Regions from separate parts of the Homo sapiens genome. Here region 1 is linked to region 2. A link means that fine-mapping ties the variant in region 2 to the expression of a gene that starts in the linked region. Tissue or cell type: whole blood. Region 2 holds a variant in brackets; the other region holds the start of a gene. All regions are shown on one strand. Distances are between the middles of the regions.

The links. PIP is the estimated chance that this variant, and not a neighbour inherited with it, causes the effect.
Region 1: it holds the start of LONP1, and the variant in region 2 is fine-mapped to the expression of LONP1 in whole blood (INTERVAL, PIP 0.97).

The regions. Positions count from the first base shown.
Region 1 is chr19:5,717,298-5,722,516 of GRCh38, reverse strand. It overlaps LONP1 (lon peptidase 1, mitochondrial), which reads left to right and starts at 2,371. Exons shown (of 18, transcript NM_004793.4): 1 at 2,371-2,813. The coding sequence starts at 2,385. It overlaps CATSPERD (catsper channel auxiliary subunit delta), which reads right to left and starts at 1,880. Exons shown (of 22, transcript NM_152784.4): 1 at 1,709-1,880. The coding sequence starts at 1,779. RefSeq lists enhancers at 2,122-2,221, 2,174-2,690, 3,724-4,239, 4,240-4,756 and silencers at 2,502-2,551, 2,682-2,761.
Region 2 is chr19:5,640,988-5,646,480 of GRCh38, reverse strand. It overlaps SAFB (scaffold attachment factor B), which reads right to left. Exons shown (of 21, transcript NM_001201338.2): 3 at 4,823-4,887; 4 at 4,535-4,741; 5 at 1,082-1,144. Among named protein-coding and RNA genes, the nearest start is that of SAFB, 21 kb to the right of the region's middle. The variant G/A (reference allele first, on the strand shown) is at 2,842.

The DNA.
Region 1 (5,219 bases), 76 kb before region 2:
GGAAAATGTTTCTCCCACTTACTAGGTATGTGTTGTTAGGCAAGTGTGTCTTTAACTTTCCTAAGTATGCTTTCGTATCTATAAAATAAGGGTGTTGGCCGGGCGCGGTGGCACACGCCTGTAAGCCCAGCACGTTGGGAGGCCGAGGCAAGTGAATCACGAGGTCAGGAGTTCGAGACCAACCTGGGCAACATGGTGGAACCCTGTCTCTACTAAAAACACAAAAAATTAGCTGCACGTGGTGGCAGGCGCCCATAATCCCAACTACTCTGGAGGCTGAGGCAGGAGAATTGCTTGAACTTGGGAGGCGGAGGTTGCAGTGAGCCGAGACCGTGACATTGTACTCCAGCCTGGGCGACGAGAACAAGACTCCATCTCAAAAAAATAAAATAAGGGTATGGCTGGGCATGGGTGGCTCATGCCTGTAATCCCAACACTTTGGGAGGCTGAGGCAGGAGGATCACTGGAGCCTAGGAGTTCAAGACCAGCCTGGGCAAAACAGTGAGACCCCATCTCTTTTTTTTTTTTTTTCCTTTGAGACAGAGTCTCCCTTTGTCACCCAGGCTGGAGTGCGATCTCAGCTCACTGCAACCTCCACCTCCTGAATTCAAGCGATTTTTCTGCCTCAGCCTCCCAAGTAGCTGGGATTACAGGCACCTGCCACCAAGCCTGGCTAATTTTTGTATTTTTAGTAGAGACGAGGTTTCATCATGTTGGCCAGGCTGGTCTGGAACTCTTGACCTCAAGTGAGTGATCTGCCCACCTCTACCTCTCAAAGTGTTGGGATTACAGGCGTGAGCCACTGCACCCAGCCAGTGAGACCCCATCTGTACAAAAAATAATAATAAATAAAATAAAATAAGGTTAAGGAATCATTATGAATCTTCCTGTAAACATCAAATGAGGCCATACACCCTAAGAATACAGCTCACAGGTCCCTACTGAATGTGACAGTTTAGTCCAGATGGGAGTTCCCTGAGGGCAGGAACGGAGTTTCAGCAACTGGTCCCCATGGCAGGTTGGAGTATGCACTAACCTAACATTTACTGAAATTTCAAAATGTGCTGGGTAAGGCTGGGCGCGGTGGCTCACGCCTGCAATCCCAGCACTTTGGGAGGCGGGGGTTGCAGTGAGCAGAGATCGCGCCACTGCACTCCACCCTGGGAAACAGAGCAAAAACTCCGGCTCCAAAAAGAAAAAGAAGTGGGAGGGCTAGGCCCGGCGTGGTGGCTCACGCCTGTAATCCCAGCACTTTGGGAGGCCGAGGCAGGCGGGTCACGAGGTCAGGAGATCGGGACCATCCTGGCTAATACGGTGAAACCCCCGTCTTTACTAAAAATACAAAAAAAAATTAGCCGGGCGTGGTGGCAGGCGCCTGTAGTCCCAGCTACTCAGGAGGCTGAGGCAGGAGAATGGCGTGAATCCGGGAGGCGGAGCTTGCAGTGAGCCGAGATCGCGCCACTGCACTGCAGCCTGGGCGACAGAGCGAGACTCCGTCTCAAAAAAAAAAAAAAAAAGAGGTAGGAGAGCTTAATATCGGGCTGGGAGGATGGGGTGGAGTAGGGTGAGCGAGGCGTCAAGTTCGATTCCTAAAAAGAGTAAAAGGGGAGCCTCAGTGAGGTTGGGGAGCAGGCCTCGGCTCCAAGATGAACCAGCACCCTCCCGACCCCCGGCAGCACCCCAGCCCCAGGAGTCCTGGCAGCCCCACCGACAGAGCTGAGCTGTGACCAGCGGTCGGAGCCACATGGTCACAGCCGCCACCAGCATCAACATCAGCATCGACTTGGGCTTCCGCCGCCACCACTGCCCCTCAACCGCCACGGGGAGTCGCTGCACAATCCGAGTACGTGCAGGCTGAAGCCCTGCGCATGCGCATCAATGAGTCCCGGGAGCGGGCCTCCGCGCACTGCAGCCCGGCGCTCCGCCTGAATCTTGAGCATGCGCAGACGAATCCCGGGAAGCCCGAATCCGCGCACCCCAAAGTGCGCTCAGAGCCTGAGTATGCGCACCCGGCCACCCGTGGCCAGTCTAGAGTCTGAGCATGCGCATGTTGTCCGCGCGCCTAAGCATGTGCACAGGCTGCTCATGAGTTCCTAAACGTTGCGTTTGCAACACTACCAGTGTTTTGTACGGGCGCTGGCGCCTGCTCACAGCCTTCCACGTGACCGGAAAAGGCCTTCAGCGCATAAAGTGGGAGACCGGAAGAGGCGGAGACGATCCGATGCTCGAACTCCGCCCCCTCTTCTCCGCGTAGGCCCAGCTCCCTGAAGCGGCTGTTTCGAGCCACGCGCCCATCGGGTACCGAGGCACGCGCCGGGCGTCACGTGCGTTTCGCGGCGAGCGGAAATGACGCGAGTTGTGTGAGCCGCCAGTATGGCCGGGCTATGGCGGCGAGCACTGGCTACGTGCGACTGTGGGGAGCGGCGCGGTGCTGGGTGCTGCGGCGGCCGATGCTGGCCGCCGCCGGGGGGCGGGTTCCCACTGCAGCAGGAGCGTGGTTGCTCCGAGGCCAGCGGACCTGCGACGCCTCTCCTCCTTGGGCACTGTGGGGCCGAGGCCCGGCAATTGGGGGCCAATGGCGGGGGTTTTGGGAAGCGAGCAGCCGCGGCGGAGGCGCATTCTCGGGGGGCGAGGACGCCTCCGAGGGCGGCGCGGAGGAAGGAGCCGGCGGCGCGGGGGGCAGCGCGGGCGCCGGGGAAGGCCCGGTCATAACGGCGCTCACGCCCATGACGATCCCCGATGTGTTTCCGCACCTGCCGCTCATCGCCATCACCCGCAACCCGGTGTTCCCGCGCTTTATCAAGATTATCGAGGTAATGGGAGTCCCCGCCTCGGCCTCAGGTTTCCCACCTGTGCAAGCAGCGGGCTGAACCGTGGGATCACTTGAGCGCCCTTGTGTTTCGCAACTTTTTCAGACATGAAGTTTCTCGAAGGGTGCAGTTCGAATCCTTGTCTGCTCACCACTAGCTTGGGAACCTTGAGCCAAAGTCCTCTCCCTTTCGGATTTCTTAGGATCCGTTAGATGAGAGGAGTTGAACCCGATGAGCCTAGGATTATCCACTTTAGAACGCCGGTCATAGAAATCCGGGGCCGGGAGGGACCTGAGTAGTGTTACGGCGCTGTTAGTTTTCTCCTTACTTGGCACGAGTTTTGTAATACCTCCTCGCCCCAGGCGCTCTGCCGTCTGGTTACGAGCCTCACTGGGATCAGAATTCATTCCTTTCTTAGACAAATACTTCTTGATTGCTTATTATTTGCCAGAGAGTGTTCTAGGTTCTGGGGATATGGCAGTGAACAAAACAGACAAAAATTTCTGCCTTTGAAGCTGGGCATGGTGGCGCGCGCTGTACTCCCAGCTACTCTGGCGGCTGAGGTGGAAGGATTGTTGGAAACCTGGAGTCCAGCCTGGTCAACATGGCGAGACCCTGTCTCTTAAAAAATAAATCTGCCTTGGAGCTTACATTTTGGCAGGATGAGACAGGCAATAAAGATGTTTAGTAACGATATTGTATTAGAAGGCAATAATTACGAGAAATAGTAGAGCATGGATGGGACAGGAGGCTTAGGAGGGTGGGAAGAGGTGGGTTATTCAGTGTGTTCTTGACCTCCTACCACGTAGCAAGTTCTGAGAATACTGTAGAGAACAAGTCATTCCGGTGGTAGAAATTAGATCATTTCAGACTAAGAGCCTTGGGGGTGGGGAGGGAGCAGGATGATGTAATAGAGAGAAAGCAGTGAGTGTAAGGAACTTGAGCTTTTACAGTAGGAAGGCCCCAAAAGCCTTCTCCCCCAGCTCCCCTTCCCTTAAAAAAAAAAACTACTGATGTGGAAAGTGGCATCTATGGGAAGGTTATCTCCTAACTGGCAGAGCAAGGTCACGCAGTGAGTCAGCCTCTGCGCTCACTCTCCAGACTCTTCTAAACAAATCTCAAGGATCTGTTGGGAAGGGAAAGGCCATTTCAGAGGGGCAGCAGCCAGTAGAGAGGGGACAGAGGGAGCTTCTCCAACGCTGCTCCAAGATTTTTTTTTTTTTTTTTTTGAGACCAAGTTGCACTCTGTCATCTAGGCTAAAGTGCAGTGGCGCGATTTCAGCTCACTGCAACCTCTGCCTCCCGGGTTCAAGTGATTCTCCTGCCTCAGCCCCCTGAGTAGCTGGGATTACAGGCGCCCGCCACCGTGGCTGGCTAATTTTTCTATTTTTAGAAGAGACAGGGTTTCACCATGTTGCCCACGCTCGTCTCGAACTCCTGACCTCAAGTGATTCACCCGCCTCAGCCTCCCAAAGTGCTGGGATTGCAGGTGCGAGTCACTGCGCCCGGCCCCAAGGCCTTTCCTTGATGTTGAGTACTGGTTACTGATGCAGGCCCCCAGAGCAAGACCTTGTGGGGTCCTATCCTAGCTCCATAACCTTCAGCAAGTTATTCCTTTGGCTTCCCTCTTCTCATCTGTGACCTGGACATATTAGTGTCTTATTAGAGTTGTTGTGGGATTTAAATGAGGCCATGTGGGCTGGGCACGGTGTCTCACATGTTTAATCCCAGCACTTTGGGAGGCTGAGGCAGGAGCATAATTTGAAACCAGTATGGTCAACATAGACCCTGTCTCTACAAAAAAAAAAAAAAAAAGAAAGAAAGAAAAGCCGGGCACAGTGGCATGCACCTGTCTTCCCAGCTACTTGGAAGGCTGAGGCAGGAGGATCACTTGAAACTGGGAGATCAAGGCTGCAGTGAGCCATGGTGTCACCACTGCACTGCAGCCTGGGCAACAGAATGAGGCCCTGCCTCAGCAATAACGTGATGCTGTTTCCTCTTTGGTGTACTTCTGACATTTCAGGACTCTGCCCCGGAGGCCTTTTTCCCATCCTTGACTTCACCCCTGGCAGTTCTCTTTACCCTCCCAGGTTTCTGGGCCCAGGATGGTGTTCATCAGGCCTGGTCCCCTCCGTTCTGCAGAGCGACAGATGCCCCTTGCTCCCGGTGCCTGAGCAGAGAGATGATTCTTCTAAGAGAGTTCAGACGGCCCACGTGGAGCTAGCCAGGAGAGTTAAATGAGTGGCTGCAGATAGTATTTGGGAGACTGGCAGGTGGTTCTCATTGTATTTCTGGTTGATGATGCATTGTAAATCATAAAAATGGATCCTGCCAAGGCCAGGAGGCAGATGCCAAGGATGCAGCTATCAGCTGTTGGCAGAGGGGAAATTGGGAGGCAACTTCTTTGGG
Region 2 (5,493 bases):
TTAACATGGGAGACTGTGACCAAGAAAGAGCCAGGGGAAAGTGACAAGATCCGGCTCCTCCTCTCCTTTCTGAGTCGGGAATGGCCGTGTCAATTTGCAGGTGGAGAGACGGCAGCTCTAAAAGCGAACTGGGTTTCACCACGTTTTCTTGAGATTTGTGCCCTCCTCAAGGTTGGAGCTCTGGCTTTCCAGTATCTCCCTTGCCCTTGCATGGCAGAAGCAAATGGAGATCTTTTCCAAAAGGGGATTTCTAATTACAATAACATAGATGACATTTAAAAAGAAGACGGGAAAAAAAATAAATAAATAAAAAGGCTGGGCAAAAGCTGGCTCGATCTTCATTTCTCCACAAAAAGTTCTCCTAAGAATTAGCCAGCTACCTAGGTAAGTGTGTTCTAACAATTTGTATCTATGTAGGCTGGAAAAAAAAAGGAAACTCAAGACCCACAAATATAAAAATCATACCTGGAAATTCTCAACTCATCTGTTCTCATCTAAGATTTAATATTTACAGAGATGCCAATGAAACAGGTAGGATGATACAGTCATTAAATGAAATCTGGGCAATTTCAGAAAAAACAAAACAAAAACAAAACAAAACAAAACAAAAAAAACTTCCCAAAGACAAGACCAGAACCCCTGAGACCCCACCTTCCCCAACAGGGCTCTGTCAACCCTCAATCCCCATCTGGGCCCTACTCATCTTTCCCAGGTAGCCATGCCCTCTTGCTGTCTCATCAAATCATCTTTCTGCAGGGGATGCCACCCAGGGTAGATGAGACAGGCTGCCTTCCCCTGCCACAAGCAATGAAATTAAGAATGCCACAAAACATGACTCTAATGACTGCTGGTAAGCCACAGCGCTTGGAGGCCACTCGTCGAAGCCTAGAGTTAAGTCCCTGGCAATGCGTACATTATATTTGGAGGAAAGCAGAAAGCAAACACCCATTAACGATCCTGACAAAGGAAACAACCCTTGTGGTGATTATTAGCTGGAACTGGCATATGGTGTCTGAAATGGATTCCAGAAATTGTGGTCTGACCTTTCATTCTAAAAGTACTGAGACATACAACAGTTTACCTGTAATATAGTGAAGTCAGATGATGAAGTATCTAAATTGTTTATAGTTTCTTTGTCCTCTATCTGTAAAATAAATGGAGAAAATACAGTTCATCACACCAACAATAACGTAACATAATGGTACATCTGTACAATGAAAAGTGAACAGCTATGAAAATAATTCACAACAAAATTTTAAACCCAGGGCAGAAATCAAAACACTATTATAGTATAATTGCAGCTAAACTGAAAAAAAAGTTGTATGTAAATGTCCACCTGCACATAGACTAGGAAATCTACTAATATGGTAGCTATGTAGGTTTTAAGATGCAAAAGAAAGAAAAAAAGTCTAAGTCAAACAGAAAAGAGATGAAAATGAGTGCACAGCCTCTAAGTGGATCTGAGCACAGGGTGAGGGCTGTTCTTCCAGGAGCAATGGCTAGAGTCCTGCTGAAGTGGAGCCTTCAGCCACCGCTGCTCGCCCAGCCTGGATGCTGAGGATGTGGGACCTGCTGCCCCTGGGGTAGGTACCTCCCTCAATGGAACAGCATCTCCCAGCATGAGGGTGAGGACAGGAGCTCGAGACTGGCAATATCCTATGCCCTACTTGCAGGGGAAGAATAGCTTTTATTCTAAGAAGTAGGCTCTGCCCAATAAGGCAAAGGATTCCCCAAACAAAGAAAGGGGGTTCAGATAATTTGTGACTGAAACCAATTTTGGCCATCTGCTCTAAAGCCCTGAAATTTGAGATATACTTAGGGGGAGACGTTTTCAGATATTTTATAACCAGCATGTATTTTTATCACTATATTTCACTAGGAAAGACACGCACACGATCAGAAGACTCAAAAGGTACAAAAGCCCATTCACTGAAAACCACTCTCCACTACTCCTTTCTTCCTGCCATGCAGTGGTCATCGCATATGCTACACACGTGTTTAAGTGCCAAAGACCATCTCCCCTTAGACATCTGCACCAGGGGCAGCACATCATTCTGAACCCTCCCCAAGTGTCACTTCTCTTTTGGAGATTGTTTGAGTTCACACAGATGTGCTTAATTCATTTTGATGGTTACACTGCAGTAAAAACTGTATTCGTGGTGGTACATTTCATAACTCTACGGTGCTTTCTAGATGCTAGGCATTGAACTAGGCTGGGAAACACTTTGTTGGAGCTGCCTAGTAAATTCTTCAGGAATTGTAGAACAGATGAGTCAGGACTCCTCTCTGACACTAAAGCACAAAAGCAGCCATAGACAACAGTATCAATAGGTGTGGTTGTGCTCTCAGAAAACTTCATTTACACCATGAGACCCTGTCTTGAAAAAAAGCAAAACAAAGCAAAAACAAAAAAACCCCAAAACAAAAACAAAACAAAACAAAAACAACCCAGGTGACAGCCAACTTGATGACTTCTGCTTTAAGTGTATAATAAACATCCATCCATTGAATCTTCCGAAAACCTCTTGCAAGTGAGGAGCAGAGGTTAAGGAGTTTGTCCAGGGACACACAGAAATTGATCCATCTCCAGAATCTACCTCTGAACTCTTTTTTTTTTTTTTTGAGAGTCTCACTCTGCCGCCCAGGCTGGAGTGCAGTGGCACAATCCTGGCTCACTGCAACCTCCACCTCCCTGGTCCAAGTGATTCTCCTGCCTCAGCCTCCTGAGTAGCTGGGATTACAGGTGTGAGCCACTGTGCCCAGCCAAGCCACCGCACCTGGCCTCAACCCTTAAAACTAAACTGCTTCCAGGCATTTAGGATGTTTCCAGCTTTTGTTGCA[G/A]AATGTATGATTTTCTGCTTAGGAGGGAAAAAAACAGCCTTAAGAAGATGCAGCCATTCAGGAAGGGTAAGTAACTCCTGCTGCTGTGCAAGTGTTTCTGCTACTCCTTTTTAGAAGCTGATGAATGGGACTCACCAAAAATTGCACACCCTATTTGTATCAGAATAACTCTCAGCCACTTCTCAGACTCAAATCCTCCATTCAAATATGACAATCTGCTACCTCTAAGGATACTTGGAATCAGTTCCAAGAGGAAATGCAAAAATATTCTGAAGAAATGCAGAAGCGGATTGACTGGCATACAACAAGGTTTCTGTCCACCAAGACTGCTTGAGAAGCACTCACTGCGGAAGACCTAAGGACCAGGACAAGAACAGGGCCCCCCACGAGCCAACACAGAAAGGGCCCCACAGCTTCTCATATGCATCACTTTTTCTGTCTGACAAACATTAATCATCAGGTAAATGAAATTAATATCAAATTAATGGCACCAAGACAACATCGTACATAAGTTAAGTACATGGCCTCTGGAATTAGCCTGATCTTAGTTCTTATTCTGTTATGAGCTGTGTGTCATCTGGAGATGTTTTTTAGTTCTTGCCTTCCCAATTTCCTCAACTGAAAATGGGGACAACAGCACCTCATGTTGCTATTAGAAGAATTAAAGGGCACATGCTGGGCGCGGTGGCTCACACCTGTAATCTCAGCACTTTGGGAGTCTGAGGCAGGCGGATCACCTGAGGTCAAGAGTTCAAAACCAGCCTGGCCAACATGGTGAAAACCGTCTCTACTAAAGATACAAGAAAATTAGTCGGGCTTGGTGGTGGGCGCCTATAATCCCAGCTACTCACTTGGGAGGCTGAGGGAGGAGATCACTTGAACCCAGGGGGCAGAGGTTGCAGTGAGCTGAGATCGCGCCACTGCACTCCAGCCTGGGCAACAACAGCAAAACTCTGTCTCAGAAAAAAAAAAAAAAAAAAAAAAAAAAGAAAGGAAGGGCATAATGCCAATGCCTGGTAGGTAGTATTCAGGAAATACTACCCACTATAATCTTACTATCCATTTGATATGTTTCTAACAGGAAAAAAATTTAGGTTTAAAAACAACATCCAGGTTAATACTTGAGGTTAACTCTTAAGATAGGTATCAACTGGCTGTGTTTTTTTTTTTGTTTGTTTGTTTTAAACAAGAGATAGGGTTCTGTCAGACTCTGCCACCCAGGCTGGACTTCAATTGCACAATCATAGCTTAGTACAGCCTTGAACTCCTGGGCTGCTCCTTCCACCTCAGCTTTCTGAGTTACCGGATTACATGAGTGCATCAAGGCACCCAGCTCAACAATTGCTTCTTAACAGGAAAACACCAACTTCTAACCTCTTCCTAGTTCAATGCTTTCAAGGTACCTAGGCCATAACACCACAGATCAAGTCCGGCAACAGGAAGAGTCTGAATGGTTGTCCTCAAAATGTCTCATACTGTATGCCGCAAATGGATAGCAAGTACATATGAAATGTTATAAGACATCACCTTTCAACAAAACAAATTGGTTCAGAATCATCTGAACCAACTGACCCTTATTCTACTGAACTGGCATTACAGAACAACTTACTTCCCAATATGAAACTGATCACCTATTTTAATTGTGGAACTGATACATTCAGGGCACATTCTAGAGACATTGCCGGTTACCTACAGCATGTTCCTGAAGCTGCTCCGGAAGCTCTTTCATTTCCCCCTCGACTAGCTCTCTACTATCCGACAGGGACTCCTGGAGGTTATCAGCATCATCGTCTTCGACACAATCTGCAACGCTTCCATTATCAATTTCTGCTTCATCCAACACACTGATATCCATGATGTCGATGTCCTGCAAGTTCTCCAGACTGGTCTCAACATCCTCCTGTGACACAACCAGACCGAACCATCATGTGACCGCCACTGGTCCATCCACCACGCTACTCACTCGCAAGGCTGCACATACCTGTCCATCCCCAGAGTTTTCCTCCAGCCCGTTATCTTCCACACCCTCTTCTTCTGGTTTGCGCCCTGAAGACAGAATCATTTACAGCATGAGATCAAATGATACGCACTTTACAGAAGCAACAATGCCCTGAGCACTACACAAGTGGTCACTTTATAAACATCTGAGACACCTCACTACTTAGGAACACTTCCTAATCCAGGAATGAGGCCATTCCGCACAAGACAGCCCTGCCCCACCCCCAAGCAGAAGAGGTTCTGTTCTTGTCTGAGCTGTGGAAGTAGAAGTGCAGAAAACAGGTTCTTAGTAAAGTTGAACAGGATCAGACCTGTCCTCAGCTCTGCCCTTCTTCCTATCCCAAGTGTCCTTGTTTGAGGGAAAAATTATTTGTTGCAAATGTGCTGCCTTTTAGTTAAGGAACATGTTTTCCCACAGAAACTGCGCATGCCCGAGTATGCACATTTTTAATGCTTAAAAAGAAAAAAGAAGGGCCGGATGCGATGGCTTACGCCTGTAATCCCAGCACTTTGGGAGGCCTAGGCGGGCGGATCACCTGAGGTCAGGAGTTCGAGACCAGCCTGGAAAACATGGTGAAACCCCGTCTCTACTAAAAATACAGGACAATCACTTGAACCCAGGAGGCGGAGGTTGCACTGAGCCGAGACTGCGCC